Regions from separate parts of the Homo sapiens genome. Here regions 2, 3 and 4 are each linked to region 1. Evidence: fine-mapped expression QTL. A gene starts in region 1. Each other region holds a variant in brackets. All regions are shown on one strand. Distances are between the middles of the regions.

Evidence for each region. PIP is the estimated chance that this variant, and not a neighbour inherited with it, causes the effect.
Region 2: its variant is the best candidate, but not a certain one, in a credible set for the expression of DESI1 in spleen (GTEx, PIP 0.85).
Region 3: its variant is the best candidate, but not a certain one, in a credible set for the expression of DESI1 in subcutaneous fat (FUSION, PIP 0.68).
Region 4: its variant is the best candidate, but not a certain one, in a credible set for the expression of DESI1 in whole blood (TOPMed, PIP 0.57).

What each region holds. Positions count from the first base shown.
Region 1 is chr22:41,616,515-41,623,658 of GRCh38, forward strand. It overlaps DESI1 (desumoylating isopeptidase 1), which reads right to left and starts at 4,529. Exons shown (of 6, transcript NM_015704.3): 1 at 4,238-4,529. The coding sequence starts at 4,325. It overlaps XRCC6 (X-ray repair cross complementing 6), which reads left to right and starts at 4,781. Exons shown (of 13, transcript NM_001469.5): 1 at 4,781-4,831; 2 at 5,476-5,572. The coding sequence starts at 5,491. RefSeq lists enhancers at 2,535-2,604, 2,615-2,674, 3,947-4,548 and a silencer at 4,280-4,549.
Region 2 is chr22:42,229,019-42,236,645 of GRCh38, forward strand. The region is part of intron 1 of TCF20 (transcription factor 20); the gene reads right to left. Among named protein-coding and RNA genes, the nearest start is that of TCF20, 38 kb to the right of the region's middle. The variant A/G (reference allele first, on the strand shown) is at 4,330.
Region 3 is chr22:41,035,701-41,043,327 of GRCh38, forward strand. No RefSeq gene overlaps it. Among named protein-coding and RNA genes, the nearest start is that of SNORD140, 34 kb to the right of the region's middle. The variant T/A (reference allele first, on the strand shown) is at 3,758.
Region 4 is chr22:41,575,999-41,583,625 of GRCh38, forward strand. PMM1 (phosphomannomutase 1) reads right to left here. Exons shown (of 8, transcript NM_002676.3): 6 at 2,808-2,883; 7 at 1,810-1,925; 8 at 902-1,442. The coding sequence ends at 1,320. It overlaps CSDC2 (cold shock domain containing C2), which reads left to right. Exons shown (of 4, transcript NM_014460.4): 4 at 1-668. Among named protein-coding and RNA genes, the nearest start is that of PMM1, 10 kb to the right of the region's middle. The variant G/C (reference allele first, on the strand shown) is at 4,476.

The DNA of each region.
Region 1 (7,144 bases):
CCACAATTAAAACACACACACACACACACACACACACACACACACACACACACTTCTGCATGTACTGTGGCACAAAAAGAGGTCAAGAAACTTAAAGAGCAGCCAAAATTATTAAGAGGAGGAACTGAAGGACACTTATAATAGCTAATTATTTTAGGCAATTGGTGACTATGAAAAAAGGTGCAATGAGGCTATCTGCTCAATTAGAATGCTGAAGATAATTTTGGGACCATTTTTCATAGTGAATGAAAAGCTATAGAACAGTAATGCCTTCACTTGAGGCAATTCCAGGAGGCTGAAAACAGGACAGGCTAAAACTACGGAATTTACATTGCTTCAGGAAAGGGGAATTACCTTGGGCTTTATCTAGTCTAATCCTGAACTGCGACAGAGCTAGATGAGGTCTCCCATTGGAGAACTGACATAACTGAAGCCTGAGAGGGTACTGCAGATGAGATCACATGGATTTAATTTGGGAAAATGGAGACTAAGAGGCATGATCATAAATCTAGATTGTAAGTGGCACATACACATTGAACCCAGCTTTTTTTCTCATCCAAACTTGAAACATTTGGCAAAGGATGCCTTTACAAACTTCAGGAAGGCATCTACTTTACTTCAATTTTAAAGGAACGTATTACACAGAGGTGGTATCTCAAAATGACAGAGAACGCGAGCTCTGGAAGTCAGACTGCCTGTGTTCATAACCCAGCTCTACCACCTAGTAGCTCTGGGACCTGGGGCAAATTCCTTAACACTCTACTTCTCAGGTTCTTCAATCAAGAAAATGGAGGCAATAACAGGACTTATCTCACAAAGTTGTGGTGAGGATTATAATGCACGCAAAGTACTCAGAAAAAAAGGGTCTGACACATGGTAAGCTCTCAATAAATAGTGGCTATTAATATACTTCTAGAATTCATCATAAAAATCAGGAAACAAATTGATTTTTTAAAGGTTCAAATGTATTTAGGAATGGGAAATCAATATATGGCTACTTATAGCACTGGGACATACCCAACTTCAAGATTTGTGTTGTCTGAATGGGATGAATCAGTAAGACCATGCCTATTTTCCTTAAGTGTTCAACTCTAGAAAGTAATGACTACTAGCTTTGCTAATTCTTTCTTCATTAATTTTGCAAAAGGTATAAAAGCAATATGGAAAAAAGAGGTAGAGAAGACAGAAGTAGATTAGCACACAAGGTGATTTCCTCAGATCAGAATCTGATGTGCCCAATGAATGGGTGATGTTCCCATGTTTGGCTGAGGCATTCCAGGACTTTACATCTATATAAAAGGGCGGGGAGTGGGAAGGGGGCAGGTCTATTACTCCATCTTCAGTTACAGCACTTTCCCCTTCACCCACTACACTCCACAAAAGCCTTCTTTCAGTTCCAGTATCAGGCCAGACTCTTTCCTGTCTCAGGGCTTTGGCAGGTTGATCTTTCTCCTACCTGGAACACTGTTACTCCCTTACTACCCTCCTGTGGCTACTTCTTCCTCATCCTAAATTCCCACTTTCAAAGTCACTACCCTTGATACCCTTATTTAAAATAGGTCTCTTCACTGGGTGCAGTGGCTCATGCCTGTAATCCTAGCACTTTGGGAGGCTGAGGCGGGCGGATCACTTGAGGTCAGGAGTTCAAGACCAGCCTGGCAAACATGGTGAAACCCTGTCTCTACTAAAAATATAAAAATCAGCCAGGTGTGGTGGCATGCGCCTGTAATCCCAGCTACTCTGGAGGCTGAGGCAGGAGAATCACTTGAACCTGGGAGGCAGAGGTTGCAGTGAGCTGAGATCACCCCACTGCACTCCAGCCTGGGCAACAGAGCAAGACTCGTCTAAAAAAAAAAAAAAGGTCTCTCTTGTTATTTTCTATCACAGCACCCAGTGTGCTTCCTGTGCAGAAGGCACTTATGCAATTTGTAACTAATTATTTATGTATTTATTTTTAATGTCTCCCCCATTAGATAGCTCCATGATGGCAAAGAACATCTTTGTTCATTATATCAACCTCATTTACCTTAACACGTTGACTAGCATAGAGCAGACGCTCAATAAACATCTGCTGAATGAATGAAATAATGACTCCTAAGGCTCCTTTCAGCTGCCCAATAATTATTAGGTAATAGGATAAAAAATACCCAGTGTAAAGGGGGAGGTTTTACGTGGGGTATAGGAAATATCTGATTCCTCACTATGATAAAAAAACAAACAACTAAATGGCTCCATTCCAAGAAGTTTAGTTAAAACTTGACTGATGTGGGCTGGGCATGGTGGCTGACGCCTGTAATCCCAGCACGTTGGGAGGCCAAGGCAGGCGGATCACAAGGTGAGGAGATCGAGACCATCCTGGCTAACACAGTGAAACCCCGTCTATACTAAAAATACAAAAAATTAGCCGGCTGTGGTGGCGGGCGCCTGTAGTCCCAGCTACTCGGGAGGCTGAGGCAGGAGAATGGCGTGAACCCGGGAGGCGGAGCTTGCAGTGAGCCTAGATCGTGCCACTGCACTCCAGCATGGGTGACAGAGCGAGACTCCGTCTCAAAAAAAAAAACCAACAAAAAAAAAACACTTGACTGATGTAATCTATTAATGAGTAACAGCTTCCTCAGTGACTTTGTAAGTTTTGCTTTCAGATGTGCCTCAATCATTTTAACAACTGGTTATCTAGGCCCAAATCCCTGTCAAATAATGGGTTGGCTACATAAGAATTAGCTGATAAGCTCATTAAAAATACAGATTTTTGGACCAAAACTCCAGGAGATTCTGATTTAGTATTTGTGAAGCCTTAGAATCCATATAATTAAAATTTTCTCATTTTAAATAGATATTATGTGTATGTAATACACAGGTCCAGAGGTAAGAAACAGTTTACAGCAAAGTTTCTCTTCTACCCCTGTTCCCCTGGCATCAAGTTCCCCTTTCCATAAGCTACTGCTGTTATCAATTTCTTGTGTATCCTTACGGATAATTATTTGCCTAAGCAAGCACATATATATCCTTTGATTTGCATATTTAAAGAGCTATTCTAACCTTGTTTTTTCTAATCTCATTTACAATATATGTTGGAAATGAGGGTATCTGCATTTTTAACAAGCACCCTAGATGATTTTGATGTGAAGCCAAATATAGAAACAACTCATGGACCCACGGTTGTGAGATTAAGTTCAATTCACTACGACATATTAGAAACTCAAGGACATTGAAGGATGCCCTCAAAAGTAGCCTCCCTTACTTGATCTCTGCCCCCTCGTCTCACAGAGATGAACTAAATCATTCGCCAGTGTCTCCACAGAAGCCAGGAAAAACTAGCCATTCAAATGGATGCTGTCAAAGCTTCAATTTTCAATAATTGGAATTCTTTCCTGCTCATTGTTACCCGAAATTACAAACCTGACAATTCCTGTGTTACACAAGACATTCCTGTATTTAAGTTGAAATAAGGTGTGATCGTCACTGAATGAGGGCTGGTTTTTCTCCTGCCAGTTAAGTAGTTTAATGGAGCACAACCGAAATACTTTCTTTACTAATCCTTATTCACACAGCCTCATCCAAACTTCCCCCAAAACTGCTTTCTTGCCATTTGAGCAAAAGCAATTAACTTAGAAACTGTGGGGAGAAGACTGCTTGGTGAATTCTGGAGTTCGGGGCTCCTCTTATCCTGACTTGACCTACCTGGGGGCGATGGCTGGGTCCCTAGGCAGCTCTATCTCCCCCATCCCACCTATCCCTGGGACTGCAAAGGGAGCTTCCTTTTGGCACTGAGACAAGGTTCTCCGAGAGCCACCCGACCTCCGCAGTGTCTCTGTCACCACGAGGGGCACCGCGCGGCAGGCATCCTCACCTTTCCTACACCGCGCCAAGGAGGCAGGAGTGCACTGGGCTACCCGAGCGAGGCAGAGAACCCGCCGGGATCCAGCGCTGGTTTACCCCACACCCTCGTCGAAGGGGCTCTCGAGGGCTCGGTTTCTGCCCAAGCCCCCTGCAAGGTGGAGGCATGACTCCTCCATCCCTTCCCCTTGAATTCAAACGTGAGGATGGTATCTGCGAGGCTAAAGCGGGGCTCAGATGGCCCAAACTTCAGACCACTCTCTTCTCCACTCGGCTTTTCTTCCATCCTCCTGGCCATGTGTCTCCCCGTGAGTCGTGGCCCAAGTCTCCCCACCTCGGCCAGCCGCCACCCTCTGGCCTGGCTCCCGCCCTCCTGCCCACCTGGCCCCTTCCCCCTCACCCAGCATGATGGGGCTGAGCCGCCGGGCCAGGCCTTTGGACAGGTCGTACACGTAGAGCTTCACCGGATAGAGATTCGGCGGCTCCATTGGGACCCGTGGCGACGGCGGCCACGACGGCCCTCGGGCACCCGGCAGCGGCTTGGACCTTCCCGTACCCGACGGGAGTGCGAAGCGGAGGGAGAGGGGGGGACCGAGCCCGGGCCCGGGCTGAGGGGTGGGGGAGAGGCCGCCCTGCGCTGCTCGCGCCCCCACACCCGCTACCGGCAACGACTACTGTGAGGTGACAGAGAGGGGACAGGGAGGGCCCACACGGAAGAGGGGGCGGGGGCAGGGATGCACTTTTGCGCATGTGCTTACAGTCCTGACGTAGGAAGGGGCGGGGCTTTGCCGAAGGGGGCGGGGCTCTCGCTGATGGGTTGGCTTTCGTCAGGGACATAGGTAGAAGCTGGTTGGGGAGTGTGCGTGCCAGCCTGACGCGATATAGTGCGCACATGCGTGATGACGTAGAGGGCGTTGATTGGGACCGAGTACAGGGCCCGCGCATGCGTGGATTGTCGTCTTCTGTCCAAGTTGGTCGCTTCCCTGCGCCAAAGGTAAGCGGGCCGTTATCCATTTGTGTTGTTCGCCAGCTAGGCCTGGCCTCGTCCCGCTTCGCTCGGTCGGTCTCGCGCGCCCCCATAGCCTTGCTAGAGGGTTAGCGTTAGCCTTAAGTGTGCGAATCCGAGGAGCAGCGACAGACTCGAGACCACGCTCCTTCCTCGGGAAGGAGGCGGCACCTCGCGTTTGAGGCCCGCCTGCGTTTGAGGCCCGCCTGCGCTTGCGGCCCGCCTGCGCTTGAGGCCTGTCTGCGTTTGAGATCTCATTGGGCGTGATTGAGGAATTTGGGGAGGTTTTTGGGCGGTATTGAGGACGAGGGGGTCCGTTAGTCAGCATAGAATCCTGGAGCGGGAATCCCTCACCGTCTAAATGGCGTCGGGGGCGGGACCTCCGGGATCTGGCTTCCGCGGGCCGCCGCCGGCCCTGAAACGTGAGGGATAGCTGAGATGAGGCAGCTACTGGGATGGCCCCCATGCGCATTTACATGCAGTCCGACTGCCGAGCTTTCGAGGCAGCAGGATTTACCGTCCACATTCCTCACTACTAACCAAGCTTTTAGAACAGATCTCACAAGAACCTAGAGGTCGGTATTTTTTCGATTTAAATTTGCCTGTTACTGACGTTAACGTCTTTCGCCTAGTGAGCAGTAGCCAACATGTCAGGGTGGGAGTCATATTACAAAACCGAGGGCGATGAAGAAGCAGAGGAAGAACAAGAAGAGAACCTTGAAGCAAGTGGTAAGTGACTTCAGCATGTAGTGCCATTCGGTGTGTGGAAGAAAGACCTTCCCTGCCTATCTCTGCTGGATGGACTTTGCTGTTTGATGGCCTGCCCTTCTCCTCCCAGATAATTCTGAAATTCTTTTCTTCCTTTGAACTTCGCAGAGCTACCCTAGGCTCTTATATGCAGATCTTACTCTAGTGTGCCCTAAGTTTTTTTTGGACACTGGTAGTTTGACATCTTTTGGTCCCTGATAAATGGCCATGACCATAGGTATTTTTTGTCATCTTAAGTGGTTCAGGTGAGACCCTTCTCATCCAGGAAAGTAGTGTTACCATTCCAGGACCTCAGTGTAAAAATGCCCCCACCCTGCAATAACTACACCAACCAAAGAATAAACGCAAGCAACACAGTTACAGGAAAGTGATTGATTCCCTCACTATAGCCTCCACGTTTGGGAGTGTATGTGCAGGCAACACAGTAACACATAAAACAAAGGAAGAGAAATAGGGGTACATGTAATCTTCATACTGGTTAATTTAACTCCTGAGCAGAAAAATTTTGAATATTTTTATTAAAAATGAGAAACGGCCAGGCGCGGTGTCTCAAGCCTGTAATCCCAGCACTTTGGGAGGCCGAGGCGGGCGGATCACGATGTCAGGAGATCAAGACCATCCTGGTTAACACGGTGAAACCCCGTCTGTACTAAAAAAAAAATACAAAAAATTAGCCGGGCGTGGTGGCGGTCGCCTGTAGTCCCAGCTGCTCGGGAGGCTGAGGCAGGAGAATGGTGCGAACCTGGGAGGTGGAGCTTGCAGTGAGCCGAGATGGCGCCACTGCATTCCAGCCTGGGTGACAGAATGAGACTCTCTCAGGAAAAAAAAAAAAGTGAGAAACATAGGAAATACAAAAAAGAAAAAAATTTGCTATAATCTACCACTCTAACACAACCACTACCAGCATTTTGACATTTTTGTATTTTTCTTTCAAGTATCTTTCAATATTTATTTCCTAATGAAATATATATATTTTTTAATTTTTTAATAGAGACAGGCTGGAGTGCAGTGGTGAGATCATCGTAGCTCACTGTAACCTCAAACTCCCGGGCTCAAGTGATCCTCCTGCTTCAGCTACCTCAGTAGCTGGGACTACAAGTGCCGCCAACTCCCAATAATTTCTTAATTTTTTGTAGAGACAGGATCTTGCTATGTTGATCAGGCTGGTCTCAAACTCTTGGCCTCAAGCGATACCCCCAAGCCTTGGCCTCCCAAAGTTCTAGGTTTATAGTCATGAGCCTCCATGCCCAGACTGTATCTGATTTCTTTTTCTTTTTTTTTGGAGACAGTCTTGCTCTGTCGCCCAGGCTGGAGTGCAGTGGCGCGATCTTGGCTCACTGCAAGCTCCGCCTCCCGGGTTCATGCCATTCTCCTGCCTCAGCCTCCCGAGTAGCTGGGACCATAGGCGCCCACCACCACGCCCGGCCAGTTTTTTGTATTTTTAGTAGAGACGGGGTTTCACTGTGTTAGCCAGGATGGTCTTGATCTCCTGACCTTGTGATCCGCCCTACTCAGCATCCCAAAGTGCTGGGA
Region 2 (7,627 bases), 610 kb after region 1:
AAAAAGATTTAAAACCACTGGTCTAGAGGCTAACTTGGAGTGACTGATCCCTGCAATCACTCTATCATTTAGAAGGTGGAGAAGAGGAAAAGAAGCCAGAAAAGGAGAGTGAAGAAGTAGGAAGGAGGAAAGGCAGTGGGGGGGTCCCAAGCAAATGTGACATGTTGGACATCCAACGTGCTGGTGAGAGTCATGCAGTATGATCACAGCAGAGATGTCCATAATTATGGAATGGCAAGGTAAGCACACAGCTGTGGGAGCAGAGGGGCACCTAACCTGTTTAAACTTAGCACAGAATAAAAAAGGGAAGGAGAGAGGTGATATTAGGATTTTATTTGAGATCTAAGTTTAAGGGAACGGCAGGATATCCAGTCTGTAACTTCCATAAACAGCAAATATCCAATCATTCTTTTATTGTTGTTTTTAAGCATCTACTATGTGCTGGGCTGTTTACTAGACCTGGGAAAATAACTAGGACACTGTTCTATCCTGAAAAGCCTCAAACTGCAAGAGAGTAACGCAGGTACAGTACAGTGAAGAGAGAGGGTCAGAAGATAGGGTGCGTAACAACAGGTTTGTTGAAGGCCACGGCAATTTTCCTTTCCAACCATACTGCTCACTATTGGCCAAACCCACCACTCCACACAGACCATGCGCTCCGACCTCTTGATTTGTGCTTGGCCTCTCCCCAAAACACTTTCCAAATCTGAGTCATTCCTCAAGGCCATTTGGCTTCCTCACTGAAGGCTTCAGGAAAACGGCTCAGCTTGGTGATCTTGCCTTCCCCAAACAGCTACAGCACTTCTTGTCCATACACCATTACCTGGTGGCTGTGTCCTTATTTCCCCACTTGGTATGAATGCCTTATCTCCCCAGCTGAGCCATGTATTGTTGAAGGCATGTAACAAACATGTCTCACATCTACAAGGTCCTCAAACAGCAGCCAAGCAAACACTTGTTGCTCTGCTACTAGACTTCCCTCCAATCCAGCTTGCATTTCAGCATCTTACTGAAAAAGATCTGATTAATTCACCCCCTATTTTAAAACCTTCACTGGCTCCCAATTATTAGTACAGCACATGCAGACTTGTCTTCCAGGTGTACCACACAGCTTTCCCTTCCCTGCCTCCCAAACACCTTAAAGTTGAAGCAACAGCAATAAAAATAGTCACGTGCTACATAACACATTTCTGTCAACAATGACCACGTACACAATGGTGGTCCCATCAGAGTACAATGGAGCTGAAAAACTCCTATTGCCTGGTGATGCTGTAGCTGTCATAATGCAACATATTACCTCCTTGTTTATGGTCATGCAAGTGTAAACCTAATATACTGCCAGTGGTATAAAAGCATAGCACATACAACTATGTACAGTACATAATACTTGAAAATAAACTATGTTACTGGTTTACATATCCTATGTAGAATTCTATGTTATGTATACTATGTATTCTACTTATAAAAATAGTTAACTAAAGCTGGGTGTGGGAGCATGTGCCTATAAGTCCTAGCTACTCAGGAGGCTGAGGCAGAGAATCGCTTGAACCTGGGAGGTGGAGGTTGCAGTGAGCCGAGATCATGCCACTGCACTCCAGTCTGGGCGACAGAGAGAGACTGTCTCAAAAAAAAAACCAAAGCAAACAAACAAAAGACACTGTTATCATAGGAGATGATAGCTCCATGTGTGTTACTGACCCTAAAGACCTTCCAGTGGGCCAAGATGTGAAGCTGGAAGACAGTGATATTGATTATTCTGACCCTGTGTAGGTTTAGGCTAATGCATGTGTTTGTGTCTTAGTTTTTAACAAAAGTGTTTAAAAAGTGAAAAAATAAAAAATAAAAAATATTTAAATATGGCTCGGTGAGGTGGCTCACGTCTGTAATCCCAGTACTTTGGAAGGCCAAGGTGGGTGGATCACATGGGGTCTGGAATTCCAGACCAGCCTGGCCAACACGGTGAAACCCCGTCTCTACTAAAAAAAACACAAAAATTAGCCAGGTGTAATGGCGTGTGCCTGTAGTACCAACTACTTGGGAGGCTAAGGCAGGAGAATCGCTTGAACTCGCGACATGGAGGCTGCAGTGAGCTGAGACTGCACCATTCCACTCCAACCTGGGCGACACAGCAAGACTCTGTCTCAAATAATGATAATAAATAGAAAAAAAAGCTTATAAAGTGGCTAGGCCTGGTGGCTCACACCTACAATTCCAGAACTTTTGGGAGGCAGAGGAGAAAGGATTGCTTGATGCCAGGAGTTTGAGACCAGCCTGGGCAACATAGCATGACTCCAGCTCTATAAAAACTAAAAAAACGTAGCCAAGCACGGTGGTATGCACCTGTAGTCCTAGCTACTCAGGAGGCTTAAGTGAGGGTTGCTTGAGCCCAGGAGTTTGAGGTTACAGGGAGCTATGACTGTGCCACTGCACTCCAGCCTGGAACAGAGTAAGACCTTATCTCTAAGAGTAATTAATAATAATCATAAAAAAGTTTATAGAATAACACAATGACAGAAAATATTTTTGAACAGCTGCACAATGTATTTGTGGTTTAAGCTAAGTGTTATTACAAGAGTCAAAAGGTTACAAATTTTTAAAGTTTTTAAAGTAAAAAAGTTACAGTAATCTGGCCAGGGACTGGTGGCTCATGCCTGTAATCCCAGCATTTTGAGAGGCCCAGGCGGGTGGATCACAAGGTCAGCAGATCAAGACCATCCTGGCTAATACGGTGAAACCCCGTCTCTACTAAAAATACAAAAAATTAGCCAGGTGTGGTGGCGGGCACCTGTAGTCCCAGCTACTCGAGAGGCTGAGGCAGAAGAATGACGTGAACCCGGGAGGCGGAGCTTGCAGTGAGCCAAGATCAAGCCACCGCACTCCAGCCTGGGCGACAGAGAGAGACTCCGTCTCAAAAAAAAAAAAAAAAAAGTTACAGTAATCTAAGGTTAATAATATCAAAACAAGAAAACTTTAAAAAATAAATTTAGTGTAGTCCAAATGTACAGTGTTTATACATCTACAGTAGTGTGCAGTAACGTCCTGGGCCTTTACCTTCATTCACCATTCACTCACTGACTCACCCAGAACAACTTCCTTATCTTTTATACCTTATTTTTACTGTACCTTCTCTATGTTTAGACATATGCAGATACATACTTACCACTCTTTTACAATCTCCTACAGCATTCAGTACAGTAACATGCGGTACAGGTTTGTATCCTAGGAGCAATAGGCTATACCACATAGCCTAGATGGGCAGTCGGCTACACCCAGGCTAGGTGTGTGTAAGTACATCCTAAGATGTTAGAACAACGACAAAAATCACTCAATGATGCACTTCTTAGAAATATTCTGTTGTTAACTGAGGCATGATTGTACCAAAACAAAAAAAAAACAACGTACCACCAGCACCAAAGGTGCCAGAGATGAAAATTAGAAAGACGACTGATATTCATTCAACTGCTGACAACAGATGTTTTGGGGGTGGGATTACAGGGCATAGTCATCTTTCAGCAACTAGTTCGATCGGCCGGGCGCAGTGGCTCACGCCCGTAATCCCAGCACTTTGGGAGGTCGAGGCGGGCGGATCACGAGGTCAGGAGATCGAGACCATCCTGTCTAACACGGTGAAACCCCATCTCTACTAAAAAAAATACAAAAAAATTAGCACGGCGTGGTGGCGGGCACCTGTGGTCCCAGCAACCCGGGAGGCGGAGCTTGCAGTGAGCCTAGATCGTGCCACTGCGCTCCAGCCTGGGCAACAGAGCAAGACTCCGTCTCCAAAAAGAAAAAAAAAAAAAAAAACTAGTTTGACCAACATGCTAATTTTAAAACAAATAAAATTTAAAAGAAAACAATAATTGCAACTACTTTTATTGAGTGTTTAAATTATGTGCAATGCAATATTTTTTGTTTGTTTTGAGACAGAGTCTCCCTCTGTCGTCCAGGCTGGAGTGCACTGGTGCAATCTCGGCTCAGTGCAACCTCTGCCTCCCTGGTTCAAGCAATTCTCCTGCCTCAGTCTCCCAAGTAGCTGAGATTACAGGCTTGTGCCACAATACCCGGCTAATTTTTGTATTTTTAGTAGAGGCGAGGTTTTAACCATGTTGGCCAGACTGGTCTCGGACTCCTGACCTGAAGTCATCCACCTGCCTCGGCCTCCCAAAGTGCTAGGATTACAGGTGTGAGCCATCACACCCAGCTGCAATGCAATATATTATAGTCTCATTTAATCTTAACTCTATTATGCAGTAACTAGCCATTCTGCAGATGAGGAAACAAAGGCTCAGAAAGTTTAGTAACTCTCATAAGGTTATACAGCCAGTCAGT[A/G]AGGAAGACAGGCTGGGACTAACAAGGAATGTGCCCTAACTTCTACTGTTCTTAGCAATGTTCTGTGTATTCCCAGCACACCCAGCAGGCACCTTCTGCACCTTTTCGTTTGTTCAGCCTGGTCCTTCTGCGTGAATAATACCAGCTTTGCTGACATACCACTCACCTTTCAAGTCCAGTGCAAATCGCACTTTTCCCTTAACACCTTCCTAGAACACAAGCCATGATAAGCATTACCAGAGTTATCTACCCTTCTATTTCCCCCACAGCGTGGGACCTTAGTTCTCTTACTGCCACGCACAGAGCAAGCAATCGAACACTGGGTGAATTAAGTTGACAATATAAATTCTCTTTCTGACAAATGTAAAGGTAACAGATGAAGACCAAAAGTTTTAATCTGTGAGGAAAATTAATACCAAGAAAGGGTTTCCATAATCCCTACCTGCATTCTCTGCTCTGAACCTCACCTCTCACTGAGGCATAAGGAAAGGCAGGTTAATTTTCACCTCTTCCAAAAAGTGGCTTTACATAATAAATCCCACTTCTGAAGAATAAAAGCTACCTAACTTGTTATTAAAAATGTAAGCAATGAGAATAAAAAGGTTTCTTTAGAGTTTTTAAAATTACTTTCAATGCCTCTAGCCCTTGAAAGAAAGCACTTAAGTTTAGTACAAACAAAATGTAAAAACATGAAAACTTACTTTCCCTATACATAAACATGGAGACACAAAACCAGTGAAACAGACACGTTTAAAATTCAAAATGCTCTTAACTGACCACATCCTAATTTACGAGCAGAAGTCGAGTCCAAACAAAAACACACTGTAAAACAAAAGTGCTGGCTAACAACCTTAGAAAGAAAATATAGGAGGGGACAAACAGATTTTAATGTGTCCTTGGCCTTCCTGAGCAAAGCAATGAGAAATGCAGTCAACCAAAGCATTTAGACTTGATTTTACTGGACGTACCAACACCATAGGTCAACCTGTCAAATGAAGCAAAAAGCAGAACCGAGTTCTATGGGTTTAGTCCCCTCCAGATAAAAGCCAATGAACCTTTTTACAGTTTATGGGGTCCTCTCCATATGGCTGGGGATGCAGGCATGGGAGGAATATTGTCTGGACGATTAATTCCTGTGAAATGAACACAGGAGTTAGGAGGAGCGGAGGTGAGTCAACACACTCTACACTTCCACGGTTGCCTCAAACTCACCACAATTCCAAAATACCAAGAAACAATGTGCTAGTTCTTGCTTTTTTTAAGTGTCCATAAGCTAAAAGTCCTTCTGAAGATTGAGCGTCCCACTTAAAAGCCCAAACCAAAAAATAGTTTGCAGGATTATTTCAAATATATTAAAAACATCAAAATGCTAACTCCAAACTAAGGTGAAATAGTTACATCTAAGTATCCAAGAAGAGCATCAAGAATTAGCAAATTAATTTAGGGTCAGAAAACCTAATAATTAGGGTCAGAAGAACAAAAAGATCATTTCGGTAGCATAAGAACTTTGTGCCGGGTGCAGTGGCTCACGCCTGTAAATCCCAGAACTTTTGGAGGGCAGGGCAGGCGGATCACGAGGTCAGGAGTTCAAGACAAGCCTGGCCAACATGGTGAAACCCCACCTCTACTAAAAAAAATACAAGAATTAGCCAGGCATAGTGGCGCATGCCTGTAGTCCCACATACTCGGGAGGCTGAGGCAGGAGAATTGCTTGAGCCCAGGAGACAGAAGTTGCAGTGAGCCGAGATCGTGCCACTGCACTCCAGTCTGGCCAACAGAATGAGACTCTGTCTCAAAAAAAAAAAAAAAAAGAACTTTGTAAATGTCTGTCGCTCTAGACCTTATTTTAGGGTGCAAGCCATAACTATGATAAGGAGGGTGCCATGTATAAATGTAACAGACACTGAGACAAAAGAAAACTACTCCTGACAGCAGTTTGCTGTCTTTCCCAAGAGATTTGAGGAACAGTAACCATAAAACTTTCCTCCTCCCTTCTCAACTGGGGACTTCTCTGATGTAATATCAGGGAGAAGAACAAGGGAACATTGGGTATCAACTGGTGCACACCATCTCTCTCCTGAAGTGACAGAAAGAACATTGAGTAGTACTATCTTACCTAGAGTCAAACTAAATGACTTGAACAAAGAGACCAAGAAAAACATGTTTAGAAAATCATCTAGAAATAGGATTTTATTTTAGTAAGCGAAGTGAACAAAAAATACAATTTTATTTGTACATACAATTGCTTCCACTATTAAATTTGTTTTCTATTGATTCTTCTGGGTCATCTGTTGGAAAAAGTACTACATTTAGAATTAAGAAATCTAAATACTTCCTAGTCTTGCCACTTGTTCTGTGACTTGGGCAAGTTATTTAACCCATATGTCTCACATTCTTCACCTGCAAAAGTGGAGTTAACCTACCTTGCCACCACACGGGAATGTCCCACAGTAAGTCTGCAAACAGCTAAGTACCATATAAATCAAAATTATCACTGTTAGAATTACCACCCTCTTTCCCTCTCTCAGGTAAAAACTTGAACCAATAATAAAATAAGTAAAAGACACCAGACATGGTGGCTCACGCCTATAATCCCAGCACTTTGGGAGGCCGAGGCAGGCAGATCACTTGAGGTCAGGAGTTCAAGATCAGCCTGGCCAACATGGTGAAACCCTGTCTCTACCAAAAATACAAAAATTAGCTGGGCATGGTGGCAGGCACCTGTAATCCGAGAATCACTTGCTTGTACACCCAGGAAGCAGAGGTTGCAGTGAGCCGAGATCTCACCACTGCACACTCCAGCCTGGGTGACAGTGAGATTCCACTTCAAAAAAACAAACAAAAACAAAAACAAAAAAACAAGTAAAAGACAACAAGGAAAAAAATGGAAAAGAGGTTATCAAACAAACAAAATAAACCCTAAAAAACACAATAAATAACTACTGATTGGTGTAACAGCACTCTGTGACAGGTAATTTTTGTCATTCTCGAGTTAGGAAAGATCCCACACCCTGGGATCTACAGTCCATTCATAGAAATCACAGCAGGGTTAAATCCTCATCAATCCTCTAATTCACAATGAAGAATGCCGACGGAGCGCATTCTTAATCTATATGGCAAGAACTACAAGCCACAGGACCAATCCCCACCCTCCCCACAGAGGGACAGTGGCCTGACAGTTGGAGCTCTACTTGGAGGCAGATGGCCTCTAAAGTGCAAGAGTTTTCCCTTCTTCCCTGACCACTGGCATGCAATTAGCAAACACCCTAACCCCAGTCATTCTGAAATAAGCCAATGG
Region 3 (7,627 bases), 580 kb before region 1:
CCAACATGATGAAACCCCGTCTCTACTAAAAATACAAAAATTAGTTGGGCATGGTGGCGCACACCCGTAATCCCAGCTACTCAGGAGGCTGAGGCATGAGAATCGCTTGAATCCAGGAGGTGGAGGTTGCAATGGGCCGAGATCCAAAATCATGCCACCACACTCCAGCCTGAAGGACAGATTCAGACTTTCTCTCAAAGGAAAAAAAAAGTCCCAACTGAAATGTCCCCTCTCCTTTCCTTGACTTTCCTAAACAGGACAGTAGCTTCCTCCTTGCAATTTACATATGCACAGATGCATCTGTTATGGCCTGTATTACAACCCTTTTTTTTTTTTTTCTTTTTGAGATGGAGTCTTGCTCTGTCAGCCAGGCTGCAGTGTAGTGGTATGATCTCGGCTCACTGCAACCTCCACCTCCCGGGTTCAAGAGATTCTCCTGCCTCAGTCTCCCAAGGGGTTGGGATTATAGACGCCTGCCACCACGCCCAGCTAATTTTTGTATTTTTAGTAGAGATGGGGTTTCACCGTGTTGGCCAGGTTGGCCTCGAACTCCTGACCTCAGGTGATTCGCCCGCCTCGGCCTCCCAAAGTTCTGGAATTACAGGCATGAGCCACCACGCCCGGCCTTTTTTTTTTTTTTTGAGGCGGAGTTTCACTGTTGTTACCCAGGCTGGAGTGCAGCGGGGCAATCTCGGCTCACTACAACCTCTGCCTCCTGGGTTCAAGCGATTCTCTTGCCTCAGCCTCCCAAGTAGCTGGGATTACAGCCGCCCACCACCACGCATTGGCTAATTTTTTGTATATTTAGTACAGATGGGGTTTAGATGGGGCCAGGCTGGTCTCCAACTCCTGACCTCAGGTGATCCACTCACCTTGGCTTCCTCAAGTGCTGTGATTACAGGCGTCAGCCGCTGCGCCCGACCTACAACTTTTTTTTTAGTATATTTTTCTTTTTTTTTTTTTTTTCTGAGACAGAGTCTCTGTCGCCCAAGCTAGAGTACAATGGCATGATCTTGGCTCACTGTAGCCTCCACCTCCCGGGTTCAAATGATTCTCCTGCCTCAGCCTCCTGCATAGCAGGCACGCACCACCATATCCGGCTATTTTCTGCATTTTTACTAGAGATGGTGTTTCACTATGTTGGGCAGGCTGGTCTCGAACTCCTGACCTCAGGTAATCTGCCCACCTTGGCCTCCCAAAGTGCTGGGATTATAGGCATGAGCCACTGCGCCCGGCCTTTAGTCTGTTTTTCTCCTTCCCAGAGTATGACCTCCTTTGGGGCCTCATTCATCCCTGTGTCTTCATTCATTCATTCAACAAATCTTTTCTGAGTGCTTGCCTATCCCAGGCGTGGGAGCAGCTCACTCAATGTCTACTGAAGGGATGAATGAATTGGCGAGAGGTTGCTACCCCAATAGATGTTGTGTTGCTAGGTTACAGACTCTAGTGAGGATTGGAGAGGAGGGGGCGTGAATGCTGTTGTGTGAAATGAGAGTGAGCGTCTACACATATTCCTGCAGGATCAGGGAAACTTTGTGGGTGGAAATTCCATACTTCAGTACTGACAGTGTGGCAGGAGTGAGGTTTGGGTTTCTGACGGTGACTTTCATTATGTGTGGGGAGAGGATGGGAAGAAGGACGGTAGGAAGGAGTTGTGTTAGAGTCTTTTCAGTATACAAAAGTAGTTTGAAAAATCTTTCAGAGAATATTCTTCCATCATACCTCAAGTTGAGAATTAGTGAATTAAAAGCTTTCTAAGGTGGGGTACAGCGGCTCATGCCTGTAATCCCAATCCTGAACCTTTGGTAGGCTTAGACGAGAGGATTACTTAAGCCCGGGAGTTCCAGGCCAGCCTGGGCAACATAATGAGACCTCCATCTCTACAAAAAATAAAATAAAATTAGCTGGGCATGGTGGCACATGCCTGTGGTTTCAGCTACATGGGAGGCTAAGGCAGGAGGATCACTTGAACCTGGGAGATCAAGGCTGCAGGTGAGCTATGATCTCACCTCTGCAGTCCAGGTGGGGCAACAGAGCAAAACCAGCTTTCCTTTTTTTTTTTTTTTTTTTTTTTTTGAGGTGGAGTCTCGCTCTGTTGCCCAGGCTGGAGTGCAATGGCACAATCTCAGCTCACTGCAAGCTCCGCCTCCCGGGTTCACGCCATTCTCCTGCCTCAGCCTCCCAAGTAGCTGGGACTGCAGGCAGATGCCACCACACCCGGCTAATTTTTTTTATTTTTAGTAGAGACGGGGTTTCACCGTGTTAGCCAGGATGGTCTGGATCTCCTGACCTCGTGATCCGCCTGCCTCGGCTTCCCAAAGTGCTGGGATTACAGGTGTGAACCACCGCACCCAGCCTAAGACCAACTTTCTTTTCTTTTTTTTTTAGACAGAGTCTCACTCTGTTGCCCAAGCTGGAGTGCAGTGGCACCATCTCGGCTCACTGCAACCTCCGAGCCTCCCGGGGTCAAGTGATTCTCCTGCCTCAGCCTCCTGAGTAGCTGAGACTACAGACACCTGCCACCACACCGACTAATTTTTGTATTTTTAGTAGAGACGGGGTTTCACCCTATTGGCCAGGCTGGTCTCAAACTCCTGACTTTGTGATCCACCCGCCTCAGCCTCCCAAAGTGCTGGGATTACAGGCATGAGCCACTGCACCTGGCCAAGACCTGCTTTCTAAATAAATAAATAAATAAATAGGCTAGGCCAGGTGCGAAAGCTCACATCTGTAATCCCAGCATTTTGGGAGGTCAAGGTGAGTGGATCACCTGAGGTCAGGAGTTTGAGGCCAGCCTGGCCAAGATGGCGAAACCCCATCTCTACTAAAAATACAAAAATTAGCCAGGTGCGATTGCATACGCCTGTAGTCCCAGCTACTTGGGAGGCTGAGGCAGGAGAATCACTTGAACCTGGGAGGCGGAGGTTGCAGTGAGGCAAGATCGCGCCACTGCACTCCAGCCTGGATGACAGAGGGAGACTCCACCTCAAAAATAAATGAATAATAAAGACTAAGAAAAAAAGAGTCTACATAGATGCCTGCCAGGACCAGGCACAAAAATGTAAGTGAGAGGCAGTGATTGGTGGAGAATGTGGCTCCTGTCTGGAGGGAGTCATTGCTACTTAGCACCAAGCAGAAGCCTCCGGAGGAACTGTGGGCCCAGTGTTGCAAGACCTTCCAATTTTTCGGTAGAGGCTACAATTCCAGGTTTTAATGTGAGATCATCCCCAGGCACTGCTCCCTGCCGACGCTCTCCCTGGACACAAGGTACTCTTCCTTCTTACTCTTTCTCTGATTGGCTCTTTGCACATGTCTCATTGGCAGGGAGGAAGAAGAGAGAGAAAGAATTGGAACTAGAAGGGGAAACTGTGAATCTCCACAGCTACTGAATGACCATTTCTACATGCTTTTTGTGGGGGAAGGGAATTTAATGGTACAGAATTTACAAAACACCAAATACAACCCCAAACTCCTGCCACTGACCCCAGCCTAGGTGGATGGGTGTCAAGAGATTAAATTGCTGCATGGTTGCCTTGGCAACCAAATTTGTTAGTGATAAAACAACAGAGAGAAAGCTGCAACTTACAACCCAGATTTATGTAGTAAAACAAAATCCTATGGCCACAAGCTGGGTGCATTGGCTCATACCTGTAATCCCAGCATCTTGGGAGGTCAAGGCAGGAGAATGGCTTGAGCCCAGGAGTTTGAGACCAACCCAGGCAACAGTGAGACCCCTGTCTCTCTCTAAAAAAAAAAA[T/A]ATATATATATATATATCCTGTGGCCGGGAGCTGTGGCTCACTCTGTAATCCCAGGACTTTGGGAGGTCAAGGTGGGAGGATTGCTTGAACCCAGGAGTTTCAGACCAGCCTGGGCAACATGGGGAGACCTCATCTCTTAAAAAAAAAAAAATGAAAAAATTAGCCTGGCATGGTGGGGCACACCTGTGGTCCCAGCTACTCAGGAGGCTGAGGTGGGAGGATCGCTTCAGCCCAGGAGGTCGAGGTGCAATAAGCCATGATCATGCCACTACACTCTAGCCTGGTGACAAAAGGAGACCTTGTGTCAAAAAAAAAAAAAAAAAAGAAGAAGAAGAAGAAGAAAGAAAAGAAAAGAACAGAAAGAGGGAGGGGCCAGGCACAGTGGCTTGCGCCTGTAATCCCGGCACTTCGGGAGGCCAAGGCGGGCGGATCACTTAAGGTCAGGAGTTCAAGACATGCCTGCCCAAAATGGTGAAACCCCATCTCTAATAAAAATACAAAAAAATTAGCCAGGCATGGTGGTGCACACCTGTGATCCCAGCCACTCGGGAGGCTGAGGCAGAAGAATCGCTTGAACCTGGGAGACAAAGGTTGCAGTGAGCGCAGATCACGCCACTGCATTCCTGCACTCCATCCTGGGCAACAAAGCGAGACTCCAGGTCAAGAAAAAAAAAAAAAAGAAAAAGAAAGACCTGTCTGTCTGAGGTGAGGCTCTCTGGGAAGAAGTGAGGTGGTTTCTTTCTTTTTTTTCTTGAGACGGAATTTCACTCTTGTTGCCCAGGCTGGAGTGCAATGGTGGGATCTCGGCTCACCGCAACCTCCACCTCCCGGGTTCAAGTGATCCTCCCACCTCAGCCTGCCAAGTAGCTGAGACTAAGGCACATACCACCACACTCAGCTAATTTTTGTAATTTTTGTAGAGATGCAGTCTCGCCACGCTGCCCAGGCTGGTCTCAAACTGCTGGACTCAAGCAATCCATCTGCCTCAACCTCTCAAAGTGCTGGGATTACAGGCATGAGCTACCACACCTGGCCCTTCTCTGTTTTATTAGAAGGTAAAAAGATACTCCCTTGGCTGAATTCTGACATTGACTGAACATGGGTGAAGCCAATCAGTTAAGGCTCTGCTATTTCCGAAGGGAGGATGTAGTTTGTGGGAGCCACTGTACATAGTGGGCCACAGAAATTATTTCCTAATGTTCCAGCCCCCAAATGAGAGTATTATGCAATAACTTTCATTATGTCTTTCCTTAAAATCTGTTATTTCTTGGTTTCTTTTTTCTTCATAAAACTAGTATTACATTATGGAAAATTTGGTAACATACAACTTGATTTTGTGTATTTCTTTTTAGTCTTCTTTTTCCTTTATTAGGTATATTTCAGTTTTCTAATATCATTGTAGTCATATTGTATGTGTTATTTTATTTATTTATTTATTTTTGAGACAGAGTCTTGCTCTGTCGCCCAGGCTGGAGTGCAGTGGTGTGATTTCAGCTCACTGTAAGCTCCGCCACCCGGGTTCATGCCATTCTCCTGCCTCAGCCTCCCAAGTAGCTGGGACTGCAGGCACCCACCACCATGCCCGGCTAATTTTTCTATTTTTAGTAAAGACGGGGTTTCAGCGTGTTAGCTATGATGGCCTCGATCTCCTGACCTCATGATCCGCCCGCCTCGGCCTTCCAAAATGCTGGGATTACAGGCGTGAGCCACCATGCCAGCCTGTATGTTTGATTATAGATTTCCCTTTTCTCACTTGGTATCATAGAAAAGCGTTTTTAACTTAGAAGAGTAAATAAAATAAGCTTTTGCATGCATAAACATATGCAATGAGCCAGGCGCGGTGGCTCACGCCTGTAACCCCAGCACTTCGGGAGGCCAAGGTGGGTGGATCACGAGGTCAGGAGCTCAAGACTAGCTTGGACAACATGGTGAAACCCCATCTCTACTAAAAATACAAAAATTAGCCGGGCGTGGTGGCAGGCGCCTGTAATCCCAGCTACTCAGGAGGCTGAGGCAGGAGAATCTCTTGAACCTGGGAAGCGGAGGTTGCAGTGAGCCAAGATCGTGCCACTGCACTCCAGCCTGGGTGACAGAGCAAGACTCCATCCCCCACCCCCACCACCTGGCCCCCCAAAAAATATATATGCAATGGTGGTCCCTTCAATTTCATTACCACACATTTATTTATTTATTTAAATTTTTTTTCTTTAGAAATGGGGTCTCACTACGTTGCCCAGGCTGGAGTACAGTGGCTATTCACAGGTGCAATCATAGAACCCTACAACCTCAAACTCCTGGGCTCACGCAATCCACCTCCCTCACCTTCCCAAGTCGCTGGAACTACGGGTACATGCCCCTGTGCCTGGCTTTACTATACTTTTAAAGGTAGTATGGGGCAAAAATAATTCTTTCGTTACTGTTTTATGCTATGTGAAAGGAAATTGCACTTGCTTTTTATATTGATATTGAAGACAACGTTACACCAAAAAGTGTAATTTGATTTTTCTTTTCTTTCTTTTTTTTTTTTTTTTTTGAGATGGACTCTTGCTCTGTTGCCCAGGCTGGAGTGCAGTGGCGCGATCTCGGCTCACTACAACACCCTCCTCTCGGGTTCAAGCGATTCTCCTGCCTCAGACTCCCGAGTAGCTGGGATTACAGGCGCCTGCCACCACGCCTGGCTAATTTTTGTAGTTTTAGTACAGACGGGGTTTCACCATGTTGGCCAGGATGGTCTCCATCTCTTGACCTCATGATCCGCCTGCCTCAGCCTCCCAAAATGCCGGGATTACAGGCGTGAGCCACCGCTCTCAGCCTTGATTTAGTTTTTTTAAGAGTTTACAAATAGTGTGTGCTAAATAAAACCGTTTTGCAGCAAATAGGTTGATATAACTTTCTTTTTTTTAGTTTTTATTTTAGGTTTGAGGGTACATGTGAAGATTTGTTACATAGGTAAACACATGTCATGGGGCTTTGTTGTACATATAATTTCATCACACAGGTATTACCCCAATGCCCAATAGTTATCTTTCCTGCTCCTCTCCCCGCTCCCAACCTCCCCCCTCAAGTAGACCACACTGTCTATTGTTTCCTTCTTTGTGTTCATAGCTTCTTATCATTTAGCTCCCAGATATAATTTTCTGCCCACAATTTTAAATCACATGGGAAAGATTTAAAGAGAGGGAAAGAATTGGACCTAGAAGGAAGAAGTGTTTCTTTCCACAGCCACTGAATGACCATTTCTATGTACTTTTTGTGGGGGAAGGGAATTCAATGGTACACAATTTACAAAACACCAAATGGAATGGCAGATTTGGTAGGTAATGCATGTTTAATATGTGTGTGTGTATATATATATATGTATGTGTGTGCATATGTGTGTGTATGTATGTGTGTATATGTATATGCATGTTTATATATGTGTGTGCATAGGTGTGTATGTGTGTGTATATGTGTGTATATATGTGTGTATATGTGTATATATATGTGTGTGTATATATATGTGGGTGCATATAGACCCATCGTAGCCACTATTTACTTTGCCTTTTTTTTTTTTTTTTTGAGACAGAGTCTTGCTCTGTCTCCTAGGCTGGAGTGCAATGGCAAAATCTTGGCTCACTGCAACCTCCACCTCCTGGGTTCAAGCAATTCTCCTGCCTCAGCCTCCCAAGTAGCTGGGATTATAGGTACCTGCCACCACACCTGACTAATTTTTTGTATTTTTCGTAGAGATGGGGTTTTGCCATGTTGGCTAGGGTGGTCTCGAACTCCTGACCTCAGGTGATCCTCCTGCCTCACCCTCCCTAAGTGCTGGAATTACAGACGTGACCCACCACGCCCAGCTATTCTCCCATTTTGTAAGACAAATGTTT
Region 4 (7,627 bases), 40 kb before region 1:
CCCAGGAGGCCAGGAAGGAGGGCCCTGTCTGCCTCCACCTCTGGGTGCACCCCCTGCCTACCACCCTCCCTTCTAGAGAGCACATCGCCTGACCGGGGAGAAGTGGGGCCGTGGTTCGAGGGAGGGCTGGCCAGGGGTGGGACCCTTATGAGACTCAGTCTGTGAGTAAAACTGGGGGCTCAAATGCCCAGGATGAGGGGATCAGTGACTGTCTAGGAGGATCCCTTGCCTTGTAGGTGCCCCAAGACCGCAGGGTAGAAATCAGCCGGGATGCCTGCATCCCACCCCCGGCCCCAGGGCCCACCACATAAAATCTGGGAGCCCAGAGCTGCTGAGGTGTGGTCAGCTCCCCTAAAATGGGCACGGCCCAGCCTGTCCCATGAGGAATAAAGGCCCCTGGCCCCCTTGAGAGAGGGCTTGTTGGTGAGGGCTGACTCCTGGGGGCCCCCAAGGCTCCCCTCCTGTGGGGAGGCCACCTTTTAAGGCACCACTAGCAGTCAGGATATGGTGGCATCAGCCCTGGGGCCTCCTGGGTGGCAGGGGGGCAGCAGCTCTCCTCCCCACTCACAGGCCCTGCAGTGCTCATTTGGAATTCCTCCCAAGACCCCTGGCCACCCAGACCCCCCATTCTTCCTAACACTGGCAATAAACCCTCAACTGTGACCCACCGTGGCCTGAAGCTGCCTCTGTGTCAGGGTCCCCAAGGAAGGGGCTGGGGGTGGACACACCAAACCAGCTCTTCTTTGGGGATTCAATGGCCCCCTCCTCGACTGCATCAGACTTCCTTTGTGACCTGGGCCAAGTCCCTGCCCTCTCTGTGCTGTTTACTTGTCGGCAAAGTAGTGGCTGTGACAGCATGTGACTGGGGCCAATTATCCATTCAGACACAGCTGACACCTACTTTGTTCTGGGAACTTTAATACTGTGACAAAGTTCTCTAAAATAGGCACCTTCCCCACCGTACCTCATCGCCCAGGGCAGGCAGGCAGGGCAGGCTAGATCTCGTACCGATACTTGAGCACGCCTCCTCCTGGTGCAGAAAGAAACCTCTTCTGTACCGAAATACAAGCAGCAGCTGTGGCCTGGGCCACCAGGTGGAGCATGGGGAACACTCTGGGCCCTGGGAGGACGAAGCCAGTGCCACTAGGAGCAGACTGGCTGGGGACGGTTGTCCACACAGACTCTGGCCCCATCTGGGTGGGCTTGCAGCAGGCGTCCTGGGCCAGAGGAGGGGCCCTGGCATCTATCCAACACCAGGACCTCTCTTTAGGCCTAGGCCAAACTCTTCAGAAGTCACGACACACAGATGTGGGCCCCGGTCACGCCTCATGAGCTGTCTCTGGGAAGAAAATCTCCCGGCATCGCTGCACCGTGTCCTGAGGAGACACCACGCTGTGGCCAACAGTCCGGGGGTCGGCAAAGATCTCAAAGTCGTTCCCACCCTGCACACAGAGGATGGGCAGAGGAGGGATATTTAGGTGGAGTCCCTCTCCACATTGGCTGCTACGGACCTGCCCCTCCTCCTGCCCCTTCAGAACTGCCAGGAAGCCCACCTTCTCACCCCTTGTCAGACCTGCCCTGACTTGCTGTGTGATGTAGAACAAGTGCCCAGCCTCTTGGGGCCCCAGCTTTCCAATCTGTGTAACGGGGCTGGTGAGCAATGGTTGTTCTCCAGGAGCCCCCTAAGAGGTCTGTTGTGTTGCCCCATGTTCTGGCCTTGACCTCAGGTGATTTGCATTGGAGAAGCCACCAGACCTGGCTTCTCACTGTCCACTGCGTTAGGGGAAACCTGGGGTGGGCCACACTCACAGGGCTAGTCTCGTTCCCAAAGAAGTGGATGGTGTCGAAGCTGTCCTGGTCCAGGCTATCCAGGCAGTAGCGCTTGTCCCAGCCCTCGGGGAAGACGTCAAAGCTGATCATGCCTCCTGTGGGCAGGGGTGGGGACTGTTATTCCCTGCTGGGAGGGGCAGACAAGGCTAACAGAAGGGCTGCTTGTTCATTCATTCATTCAACAACCCTTGAGTGCCTACTGAGGGCCAGGAATAGGACACGGGACAGACTTAGGATCCTCAAGGAAGTTATGACACAGGTTGGAGAATGAACAAGACCATGAAGTGGGTGGGGGAAGCTCATCCGGCCAGGGTGATCAGGGGAGACCTCTGAGGAGGTGGCAATGAGCTGGGACCTGAGCCGAGTGGGGATGGCTGGGGCGCAAAGTACAGCCCCTGAGGCAGGGAAGAGAACGAGCGTCCCAGCAACGGAGGAGGCCAGGAGAGGTAGGGGGAGGACGGGCAGGCCCTGGGCATCACATGGAGAGGGAGGAAGAGCCTGGGGAGGACTTTGGGCAGAGGCATGTCATGACTCCAGCTCCAGCCTCTCTGGCCACTGGGGAATGGGTGAGGTGGCAGAGGGGAGCCCAGTTGTGTCAGGGTCAGTTGGAGCCTGGGACAAGCTGCTGGCAGTGGAAGTGTGAGCACCGGTGGGATTCCAGACAGGGGGCCCTGTGACTTCTAGGAGTTTGGACTTGGGAAGGGGTGGGGGAGAGCATTCAAGGGAGAGGCTCTGGTTTTTTGGCCTGAGAAACTGGGTGGGCATGGGGCGTTTACCTCTGAGGTATGAGGTGGGGAAAACTGGGGGCCAGTAAACACTGAACCCCTTTCTGCATCGGGCTCAGCCACCCTCTCTGCCCTGAGCCGGGGAGGGGCTACTAAAGCTACTGGGGGCCACAGCCTGGTCTTGGCAGGGGCAGATGGTTTGAGGAGGGGCCCTGTACCAGGCCTCCCAGGTCCTCTGCAGGGTGGACGTACCTCGAGAGAACCTCAGCCCTTTGCCAGCAAACTCTGTTTTCAGGGCTTCCACGAACTTCTCCCGGATCTTCTCTTTCTGCAGAGGGGAGGGAGCGGATGGCAGCTCAGAGGACCTGCTGTGTGCCAGGCCCTGGCTGGGCACACAGTCCACGTGAGCGTGCTGAGCATTCTAGGTGGGTAGGACCCCCAACTGTGCAGATGCGCAAACTAAGGCTCAGAGAGGGGTTGTGCCTTGGTCAAGGTCACCTAGCCCTGGTGGCAGAGCCAGGGCCTAAATCCAGAAGGGATGGGGCTGCCAATGGGGCTGTGGGCTGGGTCTTCTGAAGGAGACCTCAGAGGAGAGACACGAGTAGGAAGGGCGAGGAGACGGGGCAATCTGGATCCCACATCAGTGTCCACCTCAGGGCAGGGCTCGATCCTGTTATCTGTAACCAGCTCAACAAAGCAAATACTCAGAAATGAGCATGGGAGCTGAGAGCAGGAGACCTGTGAGGAGGTGGCTGTGGGCATTCACAGAGGGCAGCAGGATGCCAGGCATGGCAGAGCACCCAGCATGCAAAGACGCGGCTGGGCTGGGGACTAGGTAGTGCCCAGGCCGGCCCCGTCCCTCTGAGCAGGAACTCTGGCAGCAGCTCCGCAAACGTGGAGCAGGGGGACATTCTCCCCGCCAGCCCCCAGGATCTCCATCTCAGAGGGCCACAAAGGGGAGCAGCTATGCCCAGTCTGAGGGGCAGCTGAACATCTAAACCAGCCAGCAGGACATTCAGCTGACAGAGGGTCTCGAGACCGGGCTGGGAAGTCTGACCACATCCTGGGGGACCAAGAGGCGCTGAGGATTCTGGAGCACAGGAGTGGGGTGGCTGGTATGGCCCTGTAGTCAGAGCCGGGTAGGACTGGGGCGGAAAGGCAGGCAGTGGTCAGCAGCATGGAGCTTGGAGAAGTGGCCCAGGGAGGATGTCAGATATAAAGCCAGACACCCCCTAGCCTGAGATCTGAAGGCAAGTAGCCAGGCTTGGCTACTGTACTCCTCAGCTGTGTGACCATGGGCAAGTCACCTGACCTCTCTGAGCCTATTTCCTGGACTAAAGGACAGAGAAGTAATGAATGACCCCTGCCTGCTTCCCTCTCATGGAAAAGCAGAGATAAGGGATGTGAGCCCCCTGCCAGCCTTGGCCTGGCTTTCCAGCAGGTAGGTGGGCCCCAGGGAGGCCAGAGTCCCCACCAGCGTCCACTCTGTAGGCCCAGGGCTACCACTAAGACTGCCCCAGGCTCTGAAGAAATGTTTCCACATGGCCGAGGCTGGCTGCACCTCCCTTCTCTGGAGAACAAGGCTGGTCACTAGACAGCCCCATGTGCAAGGCCAGCCTCAGCAGGGACCGGCACTGTGACCTCGAGCTGGTTACTCACCCTCTGGCCTCAGTGTCCTCATCTAAGGAAGGGAAGTACTCATCCCCGCTTCAGGGTTCTGGAAGATGAGCTGGGTTAAGCATTTATTTACACCAGCTCTGGGCCAGGGCAGGGCGCACAGATCAGGAAGGTTCATGCTCCTCCAGTGCCAGAAGGGAGCAAACAAGAGCCAAAAATACTTGAGAAGGCTCTGGGGTGGGGAGTTAGGGTGTGGCTCCCCAACTCCATGCCAGGTGGGGTCCATGTGCCACCTCATCCAGT[G/C]CTCATGACAGCCCATGGGATGGGAACTGCTATTACCCCCACCTTACACATAAGGAAACTGAGGCACACGTTAGTAAAGATGCTTTTCCAGGTTACAAGGCAAATGGGTAGAGCTGGGACTGGGAACCTGGGTGGACAGGAAGGGATAACTTCTCAGCACGTGTATTGGGGGGGAAGGGTTCTTTGCCTAAGACCAATCCTAACTACCCCAAAAAAAAAGTCCCCGTGGCCGGGCGCAGCGGCTCACATCTATAATCCCAGCACTTTGGGAGGCCAAGGTAGGCAGATCACTTGAGGCCAGGGATTTGAGACCAGCCTGAACATGGCAAAACCCTGTCCCTACTAAAAAATACAAAAATTAGGCCGGGCGCGGTGGCTCATGCCCGTAATTCCAGCACTTTGGAAGGCCAAGGAGGGCGGATCACAAGGTTAAGAGATCGAGACCATCCTAGCCAGCATGGTGAAACCCTGTCTCTACTAAAAATACAAAAATTAGCTGGGCGTGGTGGCAGGCGCTTGTAGTCCCAGCTACTTGGGAGGCTGAGGCAGGAGAATCGCTTGAACCCGGGAGGCAGAGGTTGCAGCGAGCCGAGATCTCACCACTGCACTCCAGCCTGGCGACAGAGTGAGACTCCATCTCAAAAAAAAAAAAAAAAAAAAAACCCAAAACCAAACCAAAACCAAAACCAAAACCAAAAAACTTAGCCAGGTGTGGTGGCATGGGCCTGTAATCCCAGCTACTCAGGAGGCTGAGGCAGGAGAATTGCTTGAGCCTAGGCAGCGAAGGTTGCAGTGAGCTGAGATCATGCTACTGCACTCCAGCCTGGGTGACAGAGCAAGACTCTATCAAGAAAAAAAAAAAAAGTCCCTGTGCCTGTGGGCACTGCCTCCCCTAAGCCTCAGGGCACAGGTGGGAGTCAGGAGTCACTGAGCTGAGAGGCACCCTCAGGGAGGCACCAGAGGGCCAATGGCAAAATCAAATCTTTGCTCTGCAACCAACTCCCTATGTGACCTCGGGCAGGGCCCTTCTCATCGAGCCTTGGTTTCCTCATTTATAAAATGGAGATAATACAGCTCATTTCATTCATTCAAAAGGTATTTCTTGCCGGGCACAGTGGCTCACACCTATAATCACTTTGGAAGGTTGAGGTGGGTGGATTGCCTGAGCTCAGGAGTTCGAGACCAGCCTGGGCAACACGGTGAAACCCCATCTCTACTAAAATACAAAATATTAGGCCGGGCACAGTGGCCACGCCTGTAATCCCAGCACTTTGGCAGGCTGAGGCAGGCGGATCACGAGGTCAGAAGATCGAGACCATCCTGGCCAACATGGTGAAACCCCGTCTCTACTAAAAATACAAAAAATTAGCTGGGCATTGTGGTGCATGTAATCCTAGCTACTTGGGAAGGCTGAGGCAGAAGAATCGCTTGAACCAGCGAGTCAGGGGTTCCAGTGAGCCGAGATTGTGCCACTGCACTCCAGCCTGGTGACAGAGCAAGACTCTGTCTAAAAAAAAAAAATTAGCCGGGCGTGGCAGCATGTGCCTGTAGTCCCAGATACTTGGGAGGCTGGGGCAGAAGAATTGTTTGAACCCGGGAGGTGGAGGTTGCAGTGAGCCGAGATTGTGCCACAGCACTCCAGCCTGGGTGACAGAGCGAAACTCAGTCTCCAAAAAAAAAAAAACAAAAAAGGGTATTTCTTTGCGAGGTGCGGTGGCTCACACCTACAGTCTTGGTGCTTTGGAAGGCTGAGGGAGAAGGCCCACTTGAGGCTAGGAGTTCAAAACTGGCCTGGGAGACACAGCGAGATCCCATCCCTACAAAATATTTTAAAAATTAGCCTGGCATGGTGTAATGCACCTGTGGTCCCAGCTACTCAGGAGGCTGAGGTGTGAGGATCGCTTGAGCCTGAGAGATCGAGGCTGCAGTGAGCTAGGACTGGATCACTGCACTGCACTCCAGACTGGGCAACAGAGTAAGACCCTGTCTCAAAAACAATAACAACAAAAAGTATGCCATGTGCCAAGCATAGGGGATCCAGAGGAGAACAAGCCGCAGAAATCCCTCATGGAGCTTACAGTTCTGGGACAGGGACAGACAGTAATTCGGATTTTAAAAGTAGATGATGAAAGTTGTCCAAGGCTACTTGGGGAGAAATAAGGTAGGGGAAGGAGGAGGAAGTGCAGCAGTGGATGTGATACTCTCGGAGGCCCCACTGGGAAAAGGATGTGAAAGGGGATTTGAAGGAGGGGAGGGACGAGCTGGGCCTGAGAGAAGTGTGCTCTGACAGAGGCACAGCACTCTAGAATCAGCCAAGAGGCCATAGCTGGAGCAGAGGGCAGGGAGAGCCACCGAACAGGTCAGAGAGAATGACAGAATGACGTGGACGGGCCAGCATGGAAAGGTCTGGATGGGTGGATTGCTCCATCCCCGAGAGGGAGGGAGGCGGTGGGGAGAAAAGCAAAATGCACATCAAGGTTTAGCAGGGGCAGTACAGGCAGAGGTGAGAGGACCTTGGTGTGTTCCAGGAATAGAAAGTGGAACTTGAAGGGCATAGAAAGGAGACGCGGAGAGCCAGAGCCAGACAGAGCCCTCAGGGCTTGAGGCACCATAGCAGGGGGCTAGGACATCATCCAGTTGGCAACGAGGAGCCAAGGAAGGATTGTAAATGAGGGGGTGGGGCTGGGGGGTGAATGCGGCTGACATGTTTGAAAGGTTCTAATGGGCTGTGCGTGGTGGCTCATGCCTGTAATCCCAGAACTTTGGGAGGCCGAGGCAGGCGGATCACCTTAGGTCAGGAGTTCGAGACCAGCCTGGCCAACGTGGTGAAACCCTGCCTCTACTAAAAAAGTACAAAAATTAGCTGGGTGTAGTGGTGCATGCCTGTAATTCCAGCTACTTGGGAGGCTGAGGCAGGAGAATCGCTTGAACACGGGAGGTGGGAGTTGCAGTGAGCTGAGATCATGCCACTGCACTCCAGCCTCTATCTATTTTTTTGGAGACTCTATCTCCAAAAAGAAAAAGAAAGAAAGGTTCTCAGTGGCATTGCTGGAGAGCAGGCTGGCAGGGCTATGCAAGGGGTAGGGAGGGACAGAGAGGAAAGTTGGGGCAGCCTGGGGCTGGGGAAAGGGGTAATCTAGAAAGTGGGGTCT